Linked DNA regions of Homo sapiens. The protein of the gene in region 1 purifies or fractionates together with the protein of each later gene. This does not show direct contact. Each region holds a gene or a part of one and is shown in the gene's direction. Other genes may lie near its edges. The genes, in order: FPR1, EXOC3, BTAF1 and XPO7.

Region 1 (3,643 bases):
TGGGTGAGAGAAAGTCTTAGTCCACGTTTGTGTGACACTAGGTCACTGAAGCTGTCGCCCACTGATTTTCTGATATCTTATGCTCTTATTTTTCCTTTATTAAATTGATGGTAAAATACAAAAAGTTAACCATTTTAGGCTGGGCACAGTGGCTCACGCCTATAATCTCAGCACTTTGGGACGCCGAGGCGGGCAGATCACCTGAGGTCAAGGAGTTTGAGACCAGGCTGGCCAACATGGTGAAACCCCATCTCTACAAAAATATAAAAATTAGCTGGGCATGGTGGCAAGTGCCTGTAATTCCAGCTACTCAGGAGGCTGAGGCAGGAGAATCACTTAAACGCGGGAGGCGGAGGTTGCAGTGAGCCAAGATCGCACCACTGCACTCCAGCCTGGGTGACAGAACGAGACTGCGTCTCAAACAACAATAAAAAAGTTACCCATTTAAATGTACAATTCAATGGCATTAAGTACATCTACAGTGTGTTGCAACCATAACCATTATCTAGTTCCAGAACTTTTTAATCACACCAAGCAAAAACTGCATATTCATTAAGCAACAATTCCCCACTTCCTAGTTTCCCCAGTCCCTGGCAATCACTAATCTGCATTCGGTCTCTGTGAGTTTGGCTACTCTGGATATTTCATACAAGTGGAATCATACAAAATGTGACTTGTGGTGTCTTCCTTCCTTCTCTCCTTCCTTCCTCCTTCTTTCCTTCCTTTCTTTTTTCTTTCATTTTAGAGACAGGGTCTTGCTTTGTTGCCCAGGCTGGAGTGCAGTGGCTCAATCATAGTACACTATTAACCTTGAATTCCTGGGCTCAAGTGAGCCTCCCATCTCACCCTTCTGAGTAGCTAGGACTACAGGTGTGTGCCACCACATCCAGCTAATTTAATTTAATTTTGTTGTTGTTGTTGTTAGAGATGAGGATCTTGCTATGTGGCTCAGGCTGATCATGAACTCCTGAGCTCAAGCAACCCTCCTACCTCGGCTTCCCAAAGCTCTGAGATGACAGGCGTGAACCACCACATCCAGCCCTCTTTTGTTTAGAGTAATGTTTTCAAGGTTCAGCCACGTTGTAGCATATATCAGTGCTTCATTGTTTTTTATGGCAGAATAATATTCCATTGGGTGGATAAACCACATTTTGTTTATCCATTCATCTGTTGATGGACATCTGGGTTGTTTCTACCTTTTGGCTATAGGGAGGAGTGTCTCTATGAACATTTTTGTTTGAATACATGTTTTCTCTATACATCTTTGGCCCCATATTCTCCTCTTGGAGGTCAAGGACCCTATCTTCCTTAGCCATTTAATCTCCCTGGTAGGGGCTTGCATGTTAGCAATTATGAGGATGTGTCATAAGATGCAATCTTGGCCACACGTGGTAGCTCACGTCTGTAATCCCAGCACTTTGGGAGGCTGAGGTGGGTGGATCACCTGGGGTCAGCAGTTCAAGACCAGCCTGGCCAACATGGCAAAACCCCACCTCTACTAAATATACGAAAATTAGCCAGGAGTGGGGTGGTGCATACCTGTAGTCTCAGCTACTCAGGACGCTGAGGCAGGGGAATTGCTTGAACCCGGGAGGTGGAGGTTGCAGTGAGAGATCACGCCACTGCACTCCAGCCTGGGTGACAGAGCAATATTCCATCTCAAAAAAAAAAAAAAAGATGTAATCTTGCCCAACAGGTACAATAAAAGATTGCCAATGTATAGATGTGGGCATGTGTAAGGGACAGTGGTGAGGATGTTCCGGCTGTTGTGGGAGCTCTAGGGGAAGGTGAGAAAGCTAGGAGTGGGAAAACTGGCAGGGGCAGAAATGAGGGGGTGGGGAAATGGTACGGAGGTTCATAACTGAGGAATGACCACGACTGCACTATTTCAGGAGCAGACAAGATGGAGACAAATTCCTCTCTCCCCACGAACATCTCTGGAGGGACACCTGCTGTATCTGCTGGCTATCTCTTCCTGGATATCATCACTTATCTGGTATTTGCAGTCACCTTTGTCCTCGGGGTCCTGGGCAACGGGCTTGTGATCTGGGTGGCTGGATTCCGGATGACACACACAGTCACCACCATCAGTTACCTGAACCTGGCCGTGGCTGACTTCTGTTTCACCTCCACTTTGCCATTCTTCATGGTCAGGAAGGCCATGGGAGGACATTGGCCTTTCGGCTGGTTCCTGTGCAAATTCGTCTTTACCATAGTGGACATCAACTTGTTCGGAAGTGTCTTCCTGATCGCCCTCATTGCTCTGGACCGCTGTGTTTGCGTCCTGCATCCAGTCTGGACCCAGAACCACCGCACCGTGAGCCTGGCCAAGAAGGTGATCATTGGGCCCTGGGTGATGGCTCTGCTCCTCACATTGCCAGTTATCATTCGTGTGACTACAGTACCTGGTAAAACGGGGACAGTAGCCTGCACTTTTAACTTTTCGCCCTGGACCAACGACCCTAAAGAGAGGATAAATGTGGCCGTTGCCATGTTGACGGTGAGAGGCATCATCCGGTTCATCATTGGCTTCAGCGCACCCATGTCCATCGTTGCTGTCAGTTATGGGCTTATTGCCACCAAGATCCACAAGCAAGGCTTGATTAAGTCCAGTCGTCCCTTACGGGTCCTCTCCTTTGTCGCAGCAGCCTTTTTTCTCTGCTGGTCCCCATATCAGGTGGTGGCCCTTATAGCCACAGTCAGAATCCGTGAGTTATTGCAAGGCATGTACAAAGAAATTGGTATTGCAGTGGATGTGACAAGTGCCCTGGCCTTCTTCAACAGCTGCCTCAACCCCATGCTCTATGTCTTCATGGGCCAGGACTTCCGGGAGAGGCTGATCCACGCCCTTCCCGCCAGTCTGGAGAGGGCCCTGACCGAGGACTCAACCCAAACCAGTGACACAGCTACCAATTCTACTTTACCTTCTGCAGAGGTGGAGTTACAGGCAAAGTGAGGAGGGAGCTGGGGGACACTTTCGAGCTCCCAGCTCCAGCTTCGTCTCACCTTGAGTTAGGCTGAGCCACAGGCATTTCCTGCTTATTTTAGGATTACCCACTCATCAGAAAAAAAAAAAAAAGCCTTTGTGTCCCCTGATTTGGGGAGAATAAACAGATATGAGTTTATTATTGACTTCTTTTTTGATTTTGGACCTCAGCCTTGGGTGGTCAGGGTGGGAAATGATAGGAAGAAGCTGTCATCTGCATCCTAGTTTGCCTGAAATGAACCCAAATAATACCCATTATTATTAGTCCTGAATTATGAGTAGTGAATGATACCCATCATTCTGGCATCATGATGAGTAGTGTCCACTTCCATTCTGAAAAGTGCCCTGCTGTGAAAAATAAATTATATAGTCATCCTAGGTAAATGAAGGAGGAGGGAGAAGTGTGAAAGAGTATGGCTTAAATCAGACAAGATATACAAGAAGATACTTTATATAGGGCAGGAGCGGTGGCTCATGCCTGTAATCCCAGCACTTTGGGAGGCCGAGGCAGGCGGATCACCAGGGGTCAGGAATTCGAGAACAGCCTGGCCAACATGGTGAAACCCTGTCTCTACTAAAAATACAAAAATTAGCTGGGCGTAGTGGCAGGCTCCCGTAATCCCAGCTACTCAGGAGACCGAGGCAGGAGAATCGCTT
Region 2 (7,037 bases), on another chromosome or scaffold:
CCCTAGCATGAACAGTGTGAGGATTCCACCAGCTTTTTCACCATGAAGGAGACAGACCGGGAGGCCGTTGCGACAGCAGTGCAAAGGGTTGCTGGGATGCTCCAGCGCCCGGACCAGCTGGACAAGGTGGAGCAGTATCGCAGGAGAGAAGCGCGGAAGAAGGCCTCCGTGGAGGCCAGATTGAAGGTGAGGCCACCTGCCCCACTCCCAGGATCTGTCTTGGGCTTCAGGTTCTTGCTTGACATCACCATGATGATTTTGCTAAACTAGCCTTTATGGTAATGTGCAAGGAGGCAGAGCTGGACTTTCTTGAGCAGTTACTTTCAGCAGTGTATTACCACTCAGTAGCTTTGCTTAGAAGACAGTGGGAATGGTGAAAACACCAAAGGAACAAGCTTTTAAACACCCTGAGGCCGGGTGCGGTGACTCATGCCTGTAATCCCAGCACCTCGGGGAGGCCGAGGCAGGCGGATCACCTGAGGTCAGGAGTTCAAGACCAGCCTGGTCAACATGGTGAAACCCTGTCTCTATGAAAATACAAAAATTAGCCAGGCATGATGGTTGACGCCTGTAATCCCAGCTACTTGGGAGGCTGAGGCAAGAGAATCGCTTGAACCCAGGAGGCAGAGGTTGCGGTGAGCCGAGATGGTGCCATTGCATTCCAGCCTGGGCAACAGAGTGAGACTCTGTCTCAAAAAGAAAAAAAAAACACAGAAACAAAAACAACACCCTGAAAGTGTCTATTAAGTTTTTAAACAATACTGGAGGAAGGAGAAGTAGTCTTATTTAAAGCTCTTCTACAGAGCACCACTAGAGGGCATTTTGTTCAGATTGTTTTAACTCACATTTGACAGAGAGCGGATCTGAAGCTCAGGTGCCGATTCTGTCCTGTGGGTCAGCCGTCCTGGGGCCAAGTGTGGTGCTGGCTGAACAGCAGGAACTCCCCCACCCCAAGCCAGTGAAGTCCTGACCGTTCTCTCTGCCTAGACAAGACCTTTTAGGAACCTAGGATGCCTGGGAGAGCATGGGTGACATCCTTCTGAAGGTACCGTAGCAGGCCACGGCCCAGGGCAGACCCGTGGTAGTGTCCAGGATCACCAGGTGTGAGGCTAGATGAGGAGTGTCCTGACCTTTTCTCATCAAGGCTTTAAAATGCATCATTGTTCTGTTCCCAGGCAGCAATGAAGAAAAAGGTACACTGTGAATCAATTAAATCCTTGTTGATTTTATTTTCTTTTCTGGGTATTGACTGTTTCCTGCTACTCAGTGGCTCTTTCCTGAACTTGACCCTCCTGGGGAAGATTTGTTCTTCAGGAGGCAGCGCATGGCTATCATTGGCTCTGCTCACCCGTGTGGCGTCTCTCTTTAGGCCGCCATCCAGTCACAGTTGGACGGGGTGCGCACAGGCCTCAGCCAGCTCCACAACGCCCTGAATGACGTCAAAGACATCCAGCAGTCGCTGGCAGACGTCAGCAAGGACTGGAGGCAGAGCATCAACACCATTGAGAGCCTCAAGGACGTCAAAGACGCCGTGGTGCAGCACAGCCAGCTCGCCGCAGCCGTGGAGAACCTCAAGAACATCTTCTCAGGTACCAGCCAGACGCCGAGGCACTTGCCCCCACTCACGCTGTCTTTGCATGACTCACTGAGTGCTCTGTGTGCAGTGTGCTTTGCAGCCCGCACTGTAGACCTGTAGACGGTAAGTGTGATTCTTGTCTGCTCAGCGTCTTTTTTTGAACGTGGATGGAAGTGATCAGCTGAGCATGTAAAGGCTAGGAGAAGGCTTGTAGTTCAGTGTCAGGACAGAGGCCCAGAAGCGGGCTGCCCAGCAAATGCAGTGTGGAGGGATTCCCTGGCTGAGTGTCGTTCCCTTGCTTGCGATGTGGCTGTTAGACTCTGTGAGTGCAGAAGAATGAAGACGCCGTGGCCCATGCTTAAAAGGAGCTGCAGGAGAAGCCACCCTGTGCATGGGACAGAGCAAGCAGATCCCAGAGCAGAAGGGTTGAGGCGAGCAGCAGCTCCCAGGCAGGAGGAGAAGCGTGTGTGCACAGGCCAGGGCAGAGGCGGGGCTGAGCGCCGTGGGGGAGTGACCCTTTCAGTCTTCTCCCTGAATGCCTCAGTTAGAAGGATGCCAAGGGCCCTGTAACCTGTCCCTGAACGGTGCCAGCTGGCCCTGGGTGGTGGCTCCCAGCATTTGTGTTCACAGTCTCCTCCTGCTTGCTGTGACAGGAGCTGCTTCCACAGCCTCATCCCTCCCCTTGGTCCCCGCTCTGTGTCAAGGTCAGCAGCATCCTTCCAGTCCCCAACTCAGAAGCCTTGGCAGGGTCTGATTCCTTCCCTTTCTTTGTTCCTGTCTCTGGCCTCTTGGCAAGTTCTTCCTGTTCCTCTACCAGACGTCTCTGCCCTGATGTCTGTATGACACTTCCCCATCCCCAGCCGTCACGTGCCCCAGCTCACCCTTCACAGTGGCTGTGCTGCATCATCTGTGACGCTGCTCGGCTCCTGAGGCCACGTGTGAATTGGCGCGGTTCTCCCCAGCTGCCCACAGCGCACCTTGGTAATCCGTGTCCCGTCCACCCTGTCCTCTCTGCCCTCCTCTCGTGCTTGCGGCTGCAGCATTGCCGAGCACCTTGTCCCGTTGCTTTGTGTGTGCCCTTCTTCCAGGGCATGATCCGTAGGGTCACATGTGTGGCTGCAGTCCGTGTCTCTTTGTGCATGCCCAACACGAACGCCACTGTGCTGCCAACTCAGAAAGCAGCTCTTCTTGGTGACTGTGGGCCGCCTGGAACAGGAATAAAGTCCTCTCGACGGAGTCTCCTTGGTGATGCTCAGCTGGCAGCTTTCTAGTTAATTTCCTCTTATTTCGTATTGGCTGGCTACATTTCCTTCCGGTCTTTTAAACTAATGCCTGATGACCAAAAAGGTGCATTACTGGAATTAGTTTATCCACAGCAGTTGAAAATAATTTCCTTTCCTTGGTGAACAAATGAGCCTGCGTGGTATGCATGTTTTTTGTTACGGATAAATTTTCATTGAGAAGATTGGTTTGGTTGCCTTCAGACTTGTCTCATTGCCTATAACTCAGCAATGCTGTGTACACAGCTCCCCTCCCCCATTTTTTCTTCTTCTAAAATGCATATGTACAGTTTGCCGTCTTAACCATTTTTAAGTGTACAGTTGGGGACTATTAAGAACATTCATATTGTTGTGCAACCATTGCCACATCCGTCTTCAGAACTCTTTTCATCTTGCAGACATGAAAATCTGTACCCATTAAACACTGACTTCGCACCCTCTGCCCCAGCTCCTGGTCACCACCATTCTGCCTTCTGTCTCTGTGAATTGGATGACTCTGAAGACCTCATAGAAGTGGCATCACACATTATCTGTCTTTCTGTGACATGCTTATTTCACTCAGCATGATGTCCTCAGGGGTCTTCTATGCTGTGGTATTGTAGAATTTCCTTCACTTTTAAGGCTGAATAATATTCCATTGTATGGATGGACCACATTTTGCTTATCCGTTTGTCTGTTGGTGGACATTTGAATTGCTTCCACGTTTTAGCTATTGTGAATAATGCTGTAGTGAACATGGGTGTACAGATGTTTTACTTTTATTTCTTTCTGGTATATACACACAAGTGTAATTGCTGGACCATGTGGTAATTTATGTTTAAATCTTTGAGCAGCTGCCAGACTGTTTCCTCCGGTGGCTGCAGCATTTTCCACCATGAGTGTGTGAGGTTTCTGATTCGTCTGCATTTTCATTCTTCTCTTAGGTTTTTAAAAATATCCCTTATGGCTGGGTGCGGTGGCTCACGCCCGTCATCCCAGCACTTTGGAAGGCTGAGGCAGGCGGATCACCTGAGGTCAGGAGTTTGAGACCAGCCCGGCCAACATGGTGAAACCCCGTCTCTACTAAAAATATAAAAATTAGCCGGGCGTGGTGGCAGGCGCCTGTAATCCCAGCTACTCAGGAGGCTGAGGCAGGAGAATCACTTGAACCCAGGAGGCAGAGGTCACAGTGAGCCGAGATCGCACCACTGCACTCCAGCCAGGGGGACAAGAGCGAGACTTCATCTGAAAAACAAAACAAAACAAAACAAAAGTCCCTTATGTTTCCTTTTTTGCCCCATTAATTGTTTAAGAGTATGTTGTTTAATTTCCACAAATTGGTGAATTTTACAGTTTTCCTTCTGATACTGATTTCTAATGTCATCTGTTGAGTTTGGAGAAGATACTTTGTATGATATTTATCTTTTAAAAACCTGAGTCTTAATTTGAGGCCTAATCCATGGTCTTTCCTGAAGACTGTCCCATGTGCACGTGAGAATAGTGTGTGTTCTGTTGTTGGGTGTTCTTTCTGTGTCTGTTCAGTCTGGTTGGTTGGTTGCATTGTTCAAGTCCTCTCTTTCCTTGTTTAGCTTCTGTCTGCTTGTTCTGTCCATTATTGAGAGAGAGATATTGAAGCCTCCGACTATTACAGAACTGAATGTTTTTCCCTTCAGTTCTATCCATTTTTGCTTCATGTATTTTGACGGTCTGTTAGTAAATGCAGAAATATTTATAATTGTTACATCTTCTTGCTGAACCTTCTATTAATACATATGGCCTTCTTTGTGACTAGTTTTTTTTTTTTTAATTTAAAGTATATTTCATATTTATTAGTATAACCACTCCTGTTCTCTTTTGGTTATTATTTATATGGAATATCTTTTTCCACCCTTTTACTTTCAACCTATTTGTGTCTTGGGCTCTAAGGTCAGTCTCTGGTGAACACATAGAGTTGAATCATGTTTTATTTTTTAAATCTATTTTGTCTACCTCTTTTGATTGAAGATTTTAATTAATTTTGCCTACCTCTTTTGATGGAAGAGCTTACATTTAAGTGATTACTGATAAGAAGGGACTTCTGTCATTTTGCTGTTTGTTTTCTATATGCGGTATAACATTTTTGTCTCTTATTTCTGCATTTTTTTTGTGCTTTTGATTATTTTGGTAGTAAACATTTTAATTCCCTTGTTTCTTTTGCGTATATTCTATAGCTGTTTTCTTTGTGCCTACCATAAAGATTACACTTAACATCTAACATTATCTCGCTTCAGTTTGAATTTATATCAACTTAACTTCAATAACACACAAAAACCGTCCCTATATGGCTTCATCTCCACTCCCTTTGGGTTGTTCATTTCACAAAATTACATCTTTATATATCATGTGTCCAAAATCATAGACTAATAATTGTTTTTTAATGCATTCATTTTTAAAAATTAGGTAGAAAACAATGTGGAGTTAGAATCCAAAGTTACAGTATTAGTAGCTTTTAGACTATTTTTTAATGTATTAGTTTCTTTTTTATTTGTCCCTTTTAACCAGAACAAATATTAGTCTCTTAAGTCATGTACGAAACAGAGTGATGAGTTAAAAACTGAAGTGTTAATGATACTAGATTTTACGATTGTCCATGAATTTACCTTTTTTGAGGCCTTTGCTTCTTCACGTGGCTTCCAGTTGCTCTCTAGCATTCTTTCTTCTCAACCAGTGGGACTCTATTTAAGCATTTCTTGCAGGGCAGATCTTGTGGTAACAAGCTTTTCAGCTTTTGTTTATCTGGGGATGTCTTAATATCGCTCTCACTTTTGAATGACCATTTTGCTAGATTTAAGGTTCTTGGTTGACAGTATTTTTCTTTTAGCACTTTGAATATGTCATCCCACTGCCTCTGGCCTCCAAAGTTTCTGGTGAGAAATCTGATCTGCTCATAATCTTATTTTGGAGCCCTTGTTTCTGACAAGTTGCTGCTTTCAGAATTCTTTCAAAAGTTTGATTAAGTTGTATCTTAGTGTGGACCTCTGAGTTCCTCTTGCTTGGAGGTCATTGAGCTTCTTGGATCTTCATATTCATGTCTTTCATCAAATGTGGGGAGTTTTCACCTATTATTTCTTCAAATAATGTCTTGCCCATTTCTCTCTTCTCCTTCTAAAAGTCCCACTAAGCATATGTTGGCCTGCTTGATGATGTCCACAAGGTCCCTGAGGCTCTGTTCACTTTTCTTCAATCTTTTTTCTTTCTGTTCCGGATACTTGATATTTCCCATTGTCCTGTCTTCACATTCACTGATTCTTTCTTGCGCCTGTGCAGATCTGCCTTTGAATCCCTTTAGTGAATTTTTCATTTCATTTATTGTACTTTTCAGCTTCATATTTTCTGTTTGGTTTCCTTTTGGATTTTCTGTCTCATTATTGGTATTTCCATTTTGCTCATACATGTCTTTCTTCACATCTTTAAGTTCCTTAGGCATCTTTAAATCGTTGTTTTAAAGTCTTTCTCTAGTAGATCTGCCATCAGATCTTTTACAGGAACAGTTTCTTATGTTTTCCTTTGAATGGGCCATACTTTCTTCTTTCTTTGGGTGCCTTGTGATGTTTTTGTTGTTGAAAAATGGACACTTGAATCGAATAATGTGATAACTCTGGAAATCAGATCCCCTTCCCAGGTTGATGATTCTTGTTTTTGGTTGTTGTAGGCTCTCTGTGCCAAGGCACAGCCTGAGGTGTGAACTTCAAGGTCGTGTCAAGTCTTTTCTGAGCCTATGCCTTTGCCTGGGCATGCATTGGCCACTTCCGAATTTTTCCTATAAATGCAGTTACTTTTGAATGTCTTCATTCATAAATATCTGGCTTTCAAGAAGGGGAACAGATGAAGGGGGTGGTGAAGACATTGGCCCTTTAAATTCCCTGGAGCTCTGTGGGGGTGAGGAGGGACCTGTGAACAGGGGAAGATGCAACAGTGGCCACTTACCTCTTCGCACCTCTGTGGTCAGAAGCAGCAGTCAGTGATCTGAGTACAGATCTCCGGTGTGGAGGACAGGGTTCTTTTTGCCCAGCCAGGCTGCAGGCTGTGTGCAGGCAGCTTTAGGAACACATCAGCACATGCACAGCTGCCTGCGGGGTGGGAGGTGGGGCCTCGGTAGCCACTGCCCAGCTGAGAGCTGCAAATGACCACAGTTAACCACAGTTTACCATTTATGCCTTTAA
Region 3 (7,037 bases), on another chromosome or scaffold:
AGGAGCCTCTCTCCTTTTCCTGCCTTCCATGGCATCTCATTTCAATCTGTTCTTCGCTTCAGTCATATTATTTACTGATTTGAAGATTTGAACATGAACATGGTAATCTTTCTAATTAATACCTTTAGTTGTTTCCTATTGCCTTAGGATAAAGTCCACATTCTCAAACAAACATATCTTACCAAGTCCTTTGTGATCTGGTTCCTGTGTCATCTTTTTAGATTCATCTTGTGTCAACTTCTCTGTACTTCCCCTTCACCTTCTTCTCTCTTCTATCCTCCACCCTCCCCAGAATTCATTTTGTTACCCCCTACTGTTTATCTTTGGAACACTTCTTAGCCCCATCTCAGGTATGGCTAGTTCTGACCTTAGTGTGTTTTTTTGTTTGATTTTTTTTTTTTTTGAGACAGAGTTTTGCTCTTGTTGCCCACGCTGGAGTGCAATGGTGCGTTCTTGACTCACCATAACCTCCACCTCCCGGGTTCAAACGATTCTCCTGCCTCAGCCTCCCGAGTAGCTGGGATTACAGGCATGCACCACCACACCCGGCTAATTTTGTATTTTTAGTAGAGATGGGGTTTCTCCATGTTGGTCAGGCTGGCCTCGAACTCCTGACTTCAGGCGATCCACCTGCCTCAATTTTTTGATCTAAGCTTATATATTACCTTGTTCAGGACATTTTCTCTGGTTTTACTTCATCTGAGCTATTTGCACCAATACATATTCCTATCAGTCATAATATTTATATTTTGTAATTGGTTAATTGTTCTCTTACTTGCTGGATTAACATAAACTCTGAGAGAAGGAAATGTGTCTTTGATTTTTCCATGCTCAGAATGCCTGGCTCCTAGTGGGTGTTCAGTACATTTAAAAAAAAAATGAATGAATGATTTTGCTTCTTGCTTTGGTACCTTTTGAGTTGCCATATGAGTTGCCTCATAAAGCAAAATAATGGTATTCAAAGATATAACAATTATTATTTAAATTATTCACAAGAAACACTGAAAGCCTGTAACATATACTAATTTGTTTTTTGCTGAGGTTGACTTTGTGGAAGCAAGTCAAGTAACTAGTGAATGACTAGCTGACTTTCCAGCATCCGCATCTTAGGGACAACATTGTTCTCTACTCCTACATTTGTAGGAGTATGATTTTACCGTAATTTGTGCATAGTAGACTATTTCCAGTGTTTTTCAGTGAGTACTTTTGAGTTTAACTGCCTTTTTTCTTTTTTTTTTTTTTTTTTTGCAGTAAGGAAAACTTTCACTATAGCTTTTTAATATTGGCCATTTTCTAATTTTAACAATCATCGGAATATTTTTTTCTTTTTAAAGCTATCTCCTATAGGAAGGCAATTAGAATAATTTTTGAAGTTTATAATATAGTAAATTCTGTGATAGCATGGCCATTTATAATGCAAAATTGATATGATGTATTTTATGTGGTCAAATTTTTTAGACCCTGCTTAATAGGCTTGGTTTTACTGTACTTTCAGTTGTAAGAATGTGGCAGATTATGAAATGCATGGCCAACTCTTGATCTGTAGCTGAATTACATCTTGCAAAAATAACTTTGTTACTCTCTAAAATTGTAAATACAATCATAGCATTTGAAGTTCTCTGTCAAATCCAGTGAAATATCACTGGAAAATGATATGACTCTTTTAAACCCTTAGTAAAAGACCCAAAATCCAAATGTAGGAGTAGAGAACAATGTTGTCCTTAAGATGCGGATGCCGGAAAGTCAGCTAGTCATTCACTAGCTACTTGACTTGCTTCCACAAAGTCAACCTCAGCAAAAAACAAATTAGTGTATGTTACAGGCTTTCAGTGTTTCTTGTGAATAATTTAAATAATAAGTGTTATATTTTTGAACACCATTATTTTGCTTTATGGGGCTTTTTCTCATTATCATGTGTTACTTAGTTGGGATTTTGCCACCAACGGTAAAAGCAACCTTTGCGATCGCAGCACTGCACTCCAGCCTGGGCAACAGAGCAAGAATCCATCCCCCCCCCCCCCGCCCCCCAAAAAAAGCAACCTGAGATGGATTTCTTTGGCATTTTTGTTGTTTGTTTGTTTGTTTGTTTTTGGAGGCAGAGTCTCACTCTGTCCTCCAAGCTGGAAAGCTGGAGTGCAGTGGCACAATCACGGCCTCAAGTGATCCTCCCACCTCAGCCTCCCCAGTTGCTAGGACCACAGATGCATACCACCATGCCTGGCTAATTTTTTTTGTATATTTTGTAGAAGTGGGGTTTCATCATGTTGCCCAGGCTGGTTGCAAACTCCTGGGCTCCAGTGATCCACGTGGCTTTGCCCCTAAAGTGCTGGGATTACTGGTGTGAGCCACTGCGCCTGGTTTAGGTTTATTCATTGGTGGGGAATCTGTAGCTGTGTTGGGAACCATGACTTAATACAATTTTTTAAACAGCTTGTTTTTGCTACCTTTGCCTGTTTATGCCACAATTAATGGAACTGATCATTGTATATTGGCTAGTTAATAGGAACATAGTTTTTCCTTAATCAGCTAGAGAAAGTTTCAGAAATATATAGTTTTCCCTCAGCGATCTGTGCTGTAAAGGTCATGTCTAAAATGTCTAGACAGTACTTATAATATGACTGTTTTAAAAGCCATACCTTAGATTTCTCACATATCTTTGCATTTGAAAATGTTACAGTGTTCAGAAAGGGTTCAGAAAAAACAAAAACACATCCTCTTGTGGAAGAAACAAATTGCTACATATAGCAGACCTTTGCTCAATTTTGTTAATTTTCTCTTTGCACTGTTGATACTTCAGAGCAACATTGTTTCAACAGGCCTATTCTGTCAAATAAAAGGAAGTTTCTTGATGTAGGGGACGTTCAGTGGGTCCTGGACAGGAAAATGTTAATGTAGAAAAAACTACCTTAATTACCAATAAAGGACAACACAGGTTTTCCAGGCCTATTCCTCCCTGTTAATTTATTTTTAATAATTTTTTTTTAATAGAGATGAGGTCTCTCTGTGTTGGCCAGGGTGGTCTTAAACTCTTGCCTCAAGCATTCCTCCCGCATTGGCCTCCCAAATGCTGGGATTACAAGCATGAGCCACCTCACCTGGCCCTTATTGTTAATTTCAATCCATTATAAGATGACAGAAGGAACTATTGTAAATTATAATTCATCAAATATCTCATACTTTAAAAATTTAGAGATAAACTAGAAAAAGTAGAAGAGGCATTAATCAAAGCTTTTCCATTTCAATCCCAATGGTAAATTCCTCCTTATTTCTTTGGCGTATTTCTCAAGGTACTAGTTTGAATTATTATTTTAAAAATTTTTTAATTGTGACACACATAAAAATAGACTGTTCTAACCATTTAAAAATACACTTTAAAATGTATTATGAATTTTACATATTAATACATAATATGTATTAATAAGAAGTTTTAAAACCACCCATACTGCTGCTAAAGAACCTAGATTAGTATGTACTATGTTTTGTCATTAAGATAAAGTCATGCAAGAGGCTATAGGTTGTTCGATCAGGGATGGAGGGTAGAAAAAAATGTCTTGAAGGAAATAGCATAGCTTGGTTGTACATTTTCACCATTCTTCATTTAACCAATATTTACTGAGTGCTTTCTATGTTATAGGTGCTAGAGGTATAGCAGAGAAAAAAACTGTACTCTCCATTCTCATGGAGTTTATGGTCCAGGGTAGAGTGGGGTAACTTATCTAGCAAGCACCTGCCCTTACACCTGGCTTTGGTATGGTTTCACACCTTCATATTGATTCTTAGTGTTCTGTGTGATATCTTTATGTTTAAAACAACATAACATTAACATAGTTTCAAATTACCCACAACATGACCTAGAAAGTATATGTTTAAAAACACTAGAGAATTTGTTGGAAGTTGTTTCTTTTGACCTTAATGATAATATGTGCACTGTACTAAGTTCCACGTATTAAGTACACACTGTACACTATACTAAGTAATGGTCATTATCTTTCCTTACTTCCTGAGTAACACAGAAAAGTAAACATTCAAATCATCTATATTTAAAATTTTACTGTACTTTTGCCACGTGTAAAAAATGTATAACTAAATGGCTACTCTTGACTGGTCATGCTTTTTTAGTTAAGGCCACAAAGCTGTCTTTTTGAGGTATTCTGTCAGTTGACCTTTCCTAATTTATCAGAGAGGTTAAATATATTTTGAAAATATCAGTGAGGCTTTTTGCCCCTCCCCTCCCGAGATGTTTTAGAGTGGAAATACAGTATGTATTTGTTTATTAACTATGACGTAGTAATCTAGGACATGTTTTATTGTTTAAAATGCATGACATTTCTTTCTGTTTATTTTTATGGCTTTACTGTTATGAATTAACATAATGCAAACATCTGGAGAGGAGAGGGGTTAGATTGCAACTGCTAGCATAACCTCTACTACTATGTACTCTTTCCTTTTTCTAGGCAGTCTTTAGAACAGTTGCCTGAAATCACAGGTTACATGAATCATATCTTGTTTAGCTAATTCTCGGAATTGACATCCAGATTGAAAATGGGCCAGATTTCTTATTCTCAATAAATTTATAACCAGTGGATATTACAAAATATAATTTTCTTATGTTTTACTTATCTTCTATAGTCTTTGGTACCTTCCATGCAACTTGACATCTGTTACCTGTGTCTCCTCCATCTGTCTGTCTATCCTTCAGAGAATGAAGAATGTTACTTTTTCCTGCTAGCTGTGTGCAACAGAAGTTTTAGCCAAAAGTAGTATGGGAGTAAGTACTGTGTTCCCTCAGTCAGCCCTCCTTTTAACTTTCCCTTCTCTTCTGACCATCTAGCTTCCTTCAGACCTCTCCCTCACCAAGGGCCCTGTCTACCCTCCAACATAATACTGACTCTGTCTCACGTTCTTTTCCTCTTCCCCACAAGTTCACTGTACCAGCCTTTTCCACCGTGGCCTGGCCCTGATGCTTACCCTGCTTGCCTCATAGCTGGCTATCCTGAGATAACAGGTCAGACTGCCCTCTTGTCAGATCTTTGTCTGCTCATCTCTTTGTTCTTCCTTTTATGTGGTGTCCAATCTGCTGTCCTGAAGAGAGGAATGGAGAACTACGAAAGTGGCTTTAAATCAAGAGAATCAAAGAAGCATTCTTGTGTCTCCATTCCTCTATTCAGGGAGGCAATTTTGGTTACCATCCAAAGTGGAAGAAGTAAGGATAAACAGGCTTGGAATGGATGAGAGAATGAGCTGATCTGCTACCCTCAGGGCATTTGGCTGGTGGGAGAGCAGAGGTGACCTGACATAGCATTGGGATAAAAGGATCTGCAAAAAGGAGAATCAAGAGGAACTGTGTGTCTGTGGGACAGTATCAGCAATTAGGTTAGAGAGGAGTCTAAGGTCTTTGGGCAGGAGTTCTAAGTGAAGCTGGGTAGCAGAGGACCAAAGGAAAAGTTTAAGAAGGATGGAAATTATTGAAGGAATACAGTGCCTATTGCATGGCATTTTTCAGCTTGCTATTTGGGACAAGCGTAACTGCCTCATTCAGAAGGCTGAAGTACTGCTGTGCTGATCTTTTCAGTTACTGAAACATTACATTACCAACTGATTTTTTATGTAAAACTGCTGTCACAGATTAAGGATGTTTCTCAAAGGAAGCAGGAAAAAAAAAGGTAATATAAAATATTTTTTCTTTCCTTAAAGTTGGTTCTTAAACTTGTCCCCAAGAAACTTGAACTTTTCCTTAAGTATAGTTTTAGTTACAGTAAATGTCAACTACATAACAAATATTTGAATACTGTGCAAAGTGTTGTGCGAGACAAAAAGAATGATTGAAGGAGATGAAGCCTAATGAGGAAAATTAGACCTCATGTGACAAATTAATGTGAGAGATGCCACAAAAAAATATAATAAATACTTAAGTAGCTGTTCAAGATGAGAATTCATGTGGATTTCAGAAAAGGAAGTAATCTCTGTTGCATAGTAGTTTGAAATGGTTTCAAGAAGGTGAAGAACTTCAGCTGAATCCTGTTGGATGGGAGCTAGCTGAACAGTTGAACAAAGAGAAAAATACTTTATTTGTTTGCTGTAGCACATTTTATTCTCTTGTTAGAGAAGCAAGCTCAGGCACACCCGAAGATCACCTCTAGTGGTGTATCTGGTTAAATTCCAGGTGATATACCCATATTCTCAGCTGTGCCTCCCACCAACAGTTCCCAGTCTCACACATGGGGCCATTATATCTGCACAGCTGCCTGCTGTTGCAGTGAGGCAGAGTACATACCCACTGCAACCCCAACCAGTGACCATTCTGGGGATCTGGCAGAAACTGGCCAGGAAACCACCCCCTTGAGGAGGGGTGAGCCACTGTAACCCTAGCTTGAAGGGGTGTGAGAGACATTCTGAGTGGAGGAAACAGTATAGGTAAAATTGTGGAAACCAAAAATACCCACATTTGGGAGATACTTTTTGTTTTGGATTACTTTCTGGTAGGTAAGTGTGAGCCATTGAAAGTTTTAAAGTAAGGTAGTGATTTATTCGGGGGCGTTTTAGGAAGTTAATCTGGCAACAGGATGACAAGGCAGTTGGGAGTGTGAAACTGGCACTCTCAGATGGCCTGGATTTGGGGAATATTTGTTCTGGATATAATTTAAACAAATAACAGTATACAGTTTCCTCAGGGAGAAACTGATGAGAGTTGAGCAGTCAAGGATTGAATATGAGTATTCTCCCGATATTCATATTAAGAGTATTAAGAATAGGAGAACTAAGGAAAGAAGAGTTTGGAGAACAGGGTAATATAATGTGCAACTTAGGAAGGAAAGTATTGTAAGAATGGGGTGCTTGCTGGTCGCAGCTGTCAAAGAAGAGTCAAGAAAAATTGACCTTGTAAAAAACTATTGGATTTGGAGCCTAAGAGTTCATTGGTGACCTTCAGGTGTGGTATTTTGGTGTAGAAAGATGGAACCTTGATTTATATGGATTAAATTGTGTATGATGAGGAAATAATATTTTAAACACTTGTTCAAGATGCTTGGCAGTTAAAG
Region 4 (7,037 bases), on another chromosome or scaffold:
CTCAAGCAGTCCTCCTGCCCCAGCTTCCCACGTGGCTAGGATTATAGGCACGAGACACGATGCCCAGTGAATTTCCACATATATGGAATTTTAAGTTCTTGTTTTCTAGCTCTTAGAATTGTCATTTCTTGATTGTTGCTTTCTTCATCTTTTTACTTCATACATACTGTTCTCTTGACCTGTATAGATCTGTGTCCAAATCAGAAGACACCAGGATGTTACTATTGGTAGGACTTTTTACAGTATTCCTCAGGGCACCAAGGCTGAATGGTAGAACTACCAGCTAGCCAGGGTATTGCCAGAAAAAAATGCCAGGCTTTACCTAGCATTCTAAAGCTCTCCTTTTTCATCTTTAGCCTTTTCTTTTTCCATCTACAAATCAGCAGGGTAGACAGAAAGCAACAACACTTAATGCAACCCTCTCTCCCCTAATTATACTTGTATTTTAGAGTCTGAGATAGGTACCATTCAAAGCTTGGGTTATTGTGGAACATATTACCAACTTTAGGCTAGAGTATCAACCAATATCAAGGATTTAGGGATATCAGTGAATATCAGCCCTTTTTCCCATTATATGGTATTAGTTTCATGTAAAGCAAGTAAAATTAACCAAAAGAACAACCTTGGTAATGGACTACAGCTGTCACCCACTTCTTTGTCATGTCCCATGTAAAGTCTTTTAAGAGACTGACCAAGTCTTAGACTGGAAAACTGAGCTTGTGGTATCAGCTTAGGAGAGAACTGTTTGCTTACAAGCAGACTGTTAACAGAAGTGATGTCGTTTTTGCCAAACGTGTCAAGATCCCCAAATGTACAACCTTCTTGAGCACATTTTGTTGTTGTTGTTGTTCTGTCTCCACGTTTGGAGACAACCCCCAAACTATGATTTTTATAGTAGTTTTATTGCTGTTCATGTCCCAAGTAAAAGTTTTATTGAGAGAGTGAGTATTGGATTTGGAGTCTTGGTATTATGTATGAGTCCTGATCTGGACCCTCCTGCTACCTAGCAACATGACTGGGGGAAGTTTTTTGGCCTCTTTAAGCCTCAGTCTCTTTTTCTGCAAATGGAGAGTACTGATTAAACATAGTCTTATCTAGATGGCCCACCCAAAGAGAGAGGTGCTGTGTAGACTCCCCTTTGTCTTCCTCCTGGCAGGGCCTGCATCTGACTTCCTTTAGGGTATATATGGCTCTTCTACCTCTTCTTCTTTGGGACTTCTGTTTTTCTTTTTTGCTTTTTTCTGGCTTTTTGAGTTGGTTTCTTTGCCGTGTCTCTCTCTCTCTCTCTCTCTCTCTGTCTCTCTCTCCGCCCCCCACCCTCTCTCCCCCTCCCTCCCCTCCTTTCCTCCCTGGGTGGACTCAAAGCTTTTTCACTTTTTACATGTGATGTATTACTTCAATGTCTTAAAACCTTATCAGCCTCTATTTTTGCTACGAACCAGGAACGTATTTTCTTGGCAAAACAAACTTCCAAAGCTAATTTTCTTGGCATAACAAACTTCCAAAGCTAACAAACTTCAAACTTCCAAAACAAACTTCCACTGCTAGAATGAAAATATGCCATTCTAGCATAGAAGATATTGAATCCGAATATTTGAGAAGGAGTATATGTTGAACTGTGAGAGAAAGAATTTGATGATACATGTGTGGAATCCTCATCAGATTGTTACAGTTTTGTCTTTTCTTCTATTTTAACACATTTTTGCCTTCTACTACAGCGAACTCTAGTTGGCCTAGTAAGAGACCTGAGAGGGATCGCTTTCGCTTTCAATGCCAAGACCAGCTTCATGATGCTCTTTGAATGGATGTATCCTAACTCAAACTAGGAGCACACTACAGCCTGCCTTAACTGGAGTGTGATTGGGTGATAGGGTCCAGAGACGGTGTAGGGGGAAGGGAGGGTAGTGAGGCAGAGAAGATGAAGAGTTAGCCAGAAGGCCTGCATGTGTCCTGGAAGCCACCTTATGACAGACATAAGGTTGTCTGAGATTAGAACATGAATGAAGTAGTCTCCCAGTTTCTCTTTTGGATCTCAAATATAAATGCCTGTGGAACCATATACCACTGTAGAACTGTTGGTTTTGCTATATTTAGAGAGATGTTTCAGTCTGCTGAAAAAAATAAAAAGGCCAGGCACGGTGGCTCACGCCTGTAATCCCAGCACTTAGGGAGGCCGAGGTGGGCGGATCACGAGGTCAGGAGATCGAGACCATCCTGGCTAACACGGTGAAACCCCGTCTGTACTAAAAAATACAAAAAATTAGCCAGGCGTGGTGGCGGGCGCTTGTAGTCCCAGATACTTGGGAGGCTAAGGCAGGAGAATGGCATGAACCCAGGAGGCGGAGCTTGCAGTGAGCCGAGATCGCGCCACTGCACTCCAGCCTGGGCGACAGAGCGAGACTCCATCTCAAAAAAAAATAAATAATAATAATAATAATAATAAACAGCTTTTACAAATTAGGAAGTCTAACTTTACTGACTTCATACCCTTGTGAAGATTATTTCAAATCCAGGTGCCTCTTTAATAGTTATGTAAAGGAAATGAGCTGATCCCATATAATACCATAGAAGTGATGAAAGGACAAATAACAGTATGAAATACATCATGCTCTTCAGAAGAAAGGCCCTATGTAAACTAAAATGTATTATGAGATGCCTTTCACAGGTTAAAGAACACAAAATCACTTTAGTATCTTCTGGTTAGAAAGACTCCAAGATTAGCAAGCAAGAGACAGGAACTTAAAGAACTGTAGTTTGACAAGTTTTTGCTTGGCTAGTGCTGAAAAACTATTTTAAATTCTGTACCTTTCTGGAATCAGAAATCTTTCCTTAGCTTCTCATTTACAGATATCCATCCTATATGCCAATTCTCCAACGGGCAATTGAGCTCTGGTACCATGATCCAGCCTGTACTACACCTGTACTCAAGTTGATGGCTGAATTGGTTCATAATAGGTAAGCAGGAGGCAGAGCTTGCAAGGGCACATCTGCCCTGTTATCTGAGAGAATTTGCTGTATCTAGTGCTTTGGGCAGATTGTGGGAAATAATAAGATTCACTACTGCATTTTAAAATTCGAAAAGTTTTTGTGTTTTTGTTTGTGTGAAAGAATAGTATTCCTAACTACACAAAACCATAGTCAACTGCAGGAAATAAGTCACTTTTTTTGGTTTGTTTGTCTTGTTTTTTTTGAGGCGGTGTCTTGCTGTCTCCCAGGCTGGAGTGCAGTGGCACAGTCTCGGCTCACTGCAAGCTCCATCCCCCTGGGTTCACGCCATTCCCCTGCCTCAGCCTCCGGAGTAGCTGGGACTACAGGCACCCGCCACCACACCCGGCCGATTTTTTGTATTTTTAGTAGAGACAGGGTTTCACCATGTTAGCCAGGATGGTCTCGATCTCCTGACCTCGTGATCCGCGTGCCTCGGCCTCCCAAAGTGCTGGGATTACAGGCGTGAGCCACTGCGCCCATCTAATAAGTCACTTTTAAAAAGAGTCTCCAGTGGGGCATGGTGGCTCATGCCTGTAATCCTAGCTTCTTGGGAGGCCGAAGTGGGCAGATTGCGTGAATGCAGTAGTTCTAGATCAGCCTGGGCAACATGGTGAAACCCACCTCTACAAAAAATTAGCTGGGCATGGTGGCACACAACTGTAGTCCCAGCTACTCAGGAGGCTGAGGTAGGAAGATTGCTTTAGCCTGGGAGGCAGAGGTTGCAGTGAGCCAAGATTATGCCATTACACTCCAGCCTGGGTGACAGAGCAAGACCCTGTCTCAAAAAAGTAAAATAAAAAGAATCTCCAGATGTCTACTCTTAGGAGAAGTAAATTTGGCAACCAAGATTCTGATTTCCTGCCCACAGATAAGAAATTAACATCTGGTAATGGTGCCTTGTCCATCACATTTCATGGTTAGAGACATTGAGAAGGATATGATAGATATTAGAATACCCTTTCTTAAGAAAGGTATTTATTAGAGAGGTTGTGGCAGGATCAATAAAAATTTACTTTTAAAAAGTGAGCAAGATTTTCAAAACAATTTAAGGACAGTGAAAAAGAAAAGTCTAGCACCTTAGCTTTCCTAGAATTTCAGGTATGGGCATTGGTCTCTCATGGCGGTCCTGAGAGAATTAGTAAGGTTTTTTTTCTTTATTTTTATTTTATTTATTTATTTAGTTAGTTATGTTTGATCCGGAGTTTCTCTCTTGTCGCCAGGCTGAAGTACAGTGGCGCAGTCTTGGCTCACTGCAACTTAACGCCTCCTGGGTTCAAGCGATTCTCCTGCCTCAGCCTCCCACATAGCTGGGATTACAGACATGCGCCACCACGCCCGGCTAATTTTCTATTTTTAGTAGAGACGGGGTTTCTCCGTGTTGGTCATGCTGGTCTTGAACTCCCGACTTGAGGTGATCCGCCCACTTCAGCCTCCCAGAGTGTTGGGATTGCAGGCGTGAGCCACCAGGCCTAGCAGAATTAATAAGTTTTAAAACAACCTTATGGAGTGGGTAATATTTAAAGAGGCTATAACCTCCCAGGAGACTTATATTCAAGAGTTACTCATTTATAAAATAGATACTTGAGAGCACTTACTCTTTGCCAAACTTTCCTAGCCACTATGCCAGACAAAATCTCTACCCTCTTTGATGTTACAAATGGTGGGGAAGACACACAATAAAAACAAGTATGGAAGATCTTTCCAGTGATTAAGTGCCATGAAACAAAATAAAACAAGGCAGTAAAATAGAGGGGAATTGAAGGACAGGAGGGTCAGGGAAGACCTCTCAGAGAAGGTAATATTAACTAGGATCTAAATGACAAGAAAGATTCTGGTAGCCCTGCAAAGATAAGGAGTCTTCTAAACAGAAAACATCTGCACGAGTCCTGAGATAGGACAGGCTTGCTGGGACTTGTGGCAGGAGCCTGGTTGGTGGGGGGAGGCTGTGGGAGCAGGTCAGACCAGTGAGCAGAGCCAGATCATCTAGTGCCTTCGCACAGCAGTAGTGAGGAGTGGGCATTTATTCTCATTGCTGTGGGAAGCCGCTAGAGTGTTTTCAGCAAAGGATTAAAATGATCTCATTTAAGTTTTTTAAAGGCTACCATGTGAAGAATGGGACTAAAGGCAGGTAAGAGTAGAAGCAGAGAGAATGTAAGGGAAAGGTGGATTTGGGGTTTATTTTAGAGTTAGATGTTGATGGATTCAGTGTGGTGGGGGGGAGGAAGGAGGAAGGACTCCTGGGCTTTTGAGGTCTTACCAACTTGAATCTAATAAAGCTCATCAAAATGTGGAGCAGACAAAAGAGTCAGGAACTTAAAACCAAGATGGTTACAAATGGCCTTCTCTGTCTGGCTTCTTTTGGACCATTCCAAGTCCCTATGCATCTTTTCTTCATATAAAATGGTAACAATGCTTTGGCCCCTCTCCCTCAGTTGCCACTGAAGCCATAAAGGTCCATGCCAACTAATGGCTGAAGGGCTCTGCATTAGTATCAAGAGGCGACGGGTAGAAAGTATACTTTAATCAAGGCCGGGCACGGTGGCTCACGCCTGTAATCCCAGCACTTTGGGAGGCTGAGGCGGGCGGATCACGAGGTCAGGAGATCGAGACCATCCTGGCTAACATGGTGAAATCCCATCTCCACTAAAAATACAAAAAATTAGCTGGGCGTGGTGGCGGGCACCTGTAGTCCCAGCTACTTGGGAGGCTGAAGCAGGAGAATGGTGTGAACCCGAGAGGCAGAGGTTGCAGTGAGCCGAAATTGCGCCACCGCACTCTAGCCTGGGCGACAGAGTAAGACTCCATCTCAAAAAAAAGAAAGTATACTTTAATCAAATAAAATTGAGAATTTTCAAATAGTAATTTTATCTACTGCTGCTTTTTTTTTCTTATAAATGTTTTTAATTTGAGCAGCAGAATCTGAATCTAGCATGTTGGTCTTCAATATAGAAGCTACTTCATGGTTAAATATCTATAACTTGGTTATTCTCATATTAGGATAGGCAATTGCTTACCTTAATGTAAATGCAGGATCACCCAAGGTACTCAGATGAGAGCCTCAAGTACCCCAGTCTTCCAAGAAAACACCTCTGACTTTTTCTCCTCCTGTGCTCTCTGCTCAGGTCCCAGCGACTCCAGTTTGATGTCTCTTCCCCCAATGGCATCTTACTCTTCCGAGAAACCAGCAAGATGATAACAATGTATGGTAAGTGCTTCAGATAATCATGCCTCTAGAAGTTAATTCCAGCTCAGTCACCACACTGTAAGCAGCATGTGGGTCTCTGGCCAGTCCTGGCAGGAGCCAGGACAGCATTCGTATTGTATGCTAATACATGTGCATTAGAGTGCCACCTGTCACCAGGGGCCTACTGGAATTTGTATGCCTTTGGAGTAGGAAGGCTGATCTAAACGAGCGCTTCTAATGTGGTTGAATAAACATATATGACATGTCTACTCAGGCAATCGCATCCTGACACTAGGAGAGGTCCCAAAGGATCAGGTCTATGCTCTGAAGCTCAAGGGCATCTCCATCTGCTTCTCCATGCTGAAGGCTGCTCTCAGTGGGAGTTACGTCAATTTCGGAGTCTTTCGTCTCTATGGAGACGATGCCCTGGACAATGCTCTGCAGACCTTCATCAAGCTGCTCCTCTCTATTCCTCACAGTGATCTCTTGGTAAGCCTTACGCTGCATTGCCACAATCTTGTTCCTCATCACATTCAGCCTTTTTCACCTGAGACCAAGATTGAACACTGCTCTTGAGAAACTATGTAAGCTAGCTCCTTTTGCTCTAACTAAGTCTTCTGTTTTCCCACCTAAAAGGAGCTAAGCTATTTAAGATCGTCTCCCTGCATGCTGGAGTGCATAGTGCCTAAGCTGATTTTCTTCCTCTTCCTCTCCCACAGGATTACCCCAAGCTCAGCCAGTCTTATTATTCACTACTGGAAGTCCTGACCCAGGACCATATGAACTTTATTGCAAGCCTGGAACCTCACGTCATCATGTATATTCTCTCTTCCATTTCTGAAGGACTTACTGCACTTGGTAAGCA

Evidence for each region.
Region 2: the proteins of FPR1 (region 1) and EXOC3 purify together in Homo sapiens (co-immunoprecipitation; 2 studies listed by BioGRID and IntAct, with this or other methods). This does not show direct contact.
Region 3: the proteins of FPR1 (region 1) and BTAF1 purify together in Homo sapiens (co-immunoprecipitation; 2 studies listed by BioGRID and IntAct, with this or other methods). This does not show direct contact.
Region 4: the proteins of FPR1 (region 1) and XPO7 purify together in Homo sapiens (co-immunoprecipitation; 2 studies listed by BioGRID and IntAct, with this or other methods). This does not show direct contact.

The regions. Positions count from the first base shown.
Region 1 is NC_000019.10:51,745,255-51,748,897, reverse strand, and holds the end of FPR1 (fMet-Leu-Phe receptor), read left to right. Parts: intron 1-1,892; 5' UTR 1,893-1,903; coding exon 1,904-2,956; 3' UTR 2,957-3,125; downstream 3,126-3,643. UniProt on the Homo sapiens protein: High affinity receptor for N-formyl-methionyl peptides (fMLP), which are powerful neutrophil chemotactic factors. Binding of fMLP to the receptor stimulates intracellular calcium mobilization and superoxide anion release.
Region 2 is NC_000005.10:446,164-453,200, forward strand, and holds part of EXOC3 (exocyst complex component 3), read left to right. Parts: 5' UTR 1-42; coding exon 43-186; intron 187-657; exon of another isoform or gene 658-1,045; intron 1,046-1,175; exon of another isoform or gene 1,176-1,229; intron 1,230-1,369; coding exon 1,370-1,589; intron 1,590-7,037. UniProt on the Homo sapiens protein: Component of the exocyst complex involved in the docking of exocytic vesicles with fusion sites on the plasma membrane.
Region 3 is NC_000010.11:91,926,753-91,933,789, forward strand, and holds part of BTAF1 (TATA-binding protein-associated factor 172), read left to right. Parts: intron 1-4,629; exon of another isoform or gene 4,630-4,768; intron 4,769-7,037. UniProt on the Homo sapiens protein: Regulates transcription in association with TATA binding protein (TBP). Removes TBP from the TATA box in an ATP-dependent manner.
Region 4 is NC_000008.11:21,992,645-21,999,681, forward strand, and holds part of XPO7 (exportin-7), read left to right. Parts: intron 1-1,718; coding exon 1,719-1,807; intron 1,808-2,847; coding exon 2,848-2,955; intron 2,956-6,110; coding exon 6,111-6,193; intron 6,194-6,446; coding exon 6,447-6,661; intron 6,662-6,891; coding exon 6,892-7,030; intron 7,031-7,037.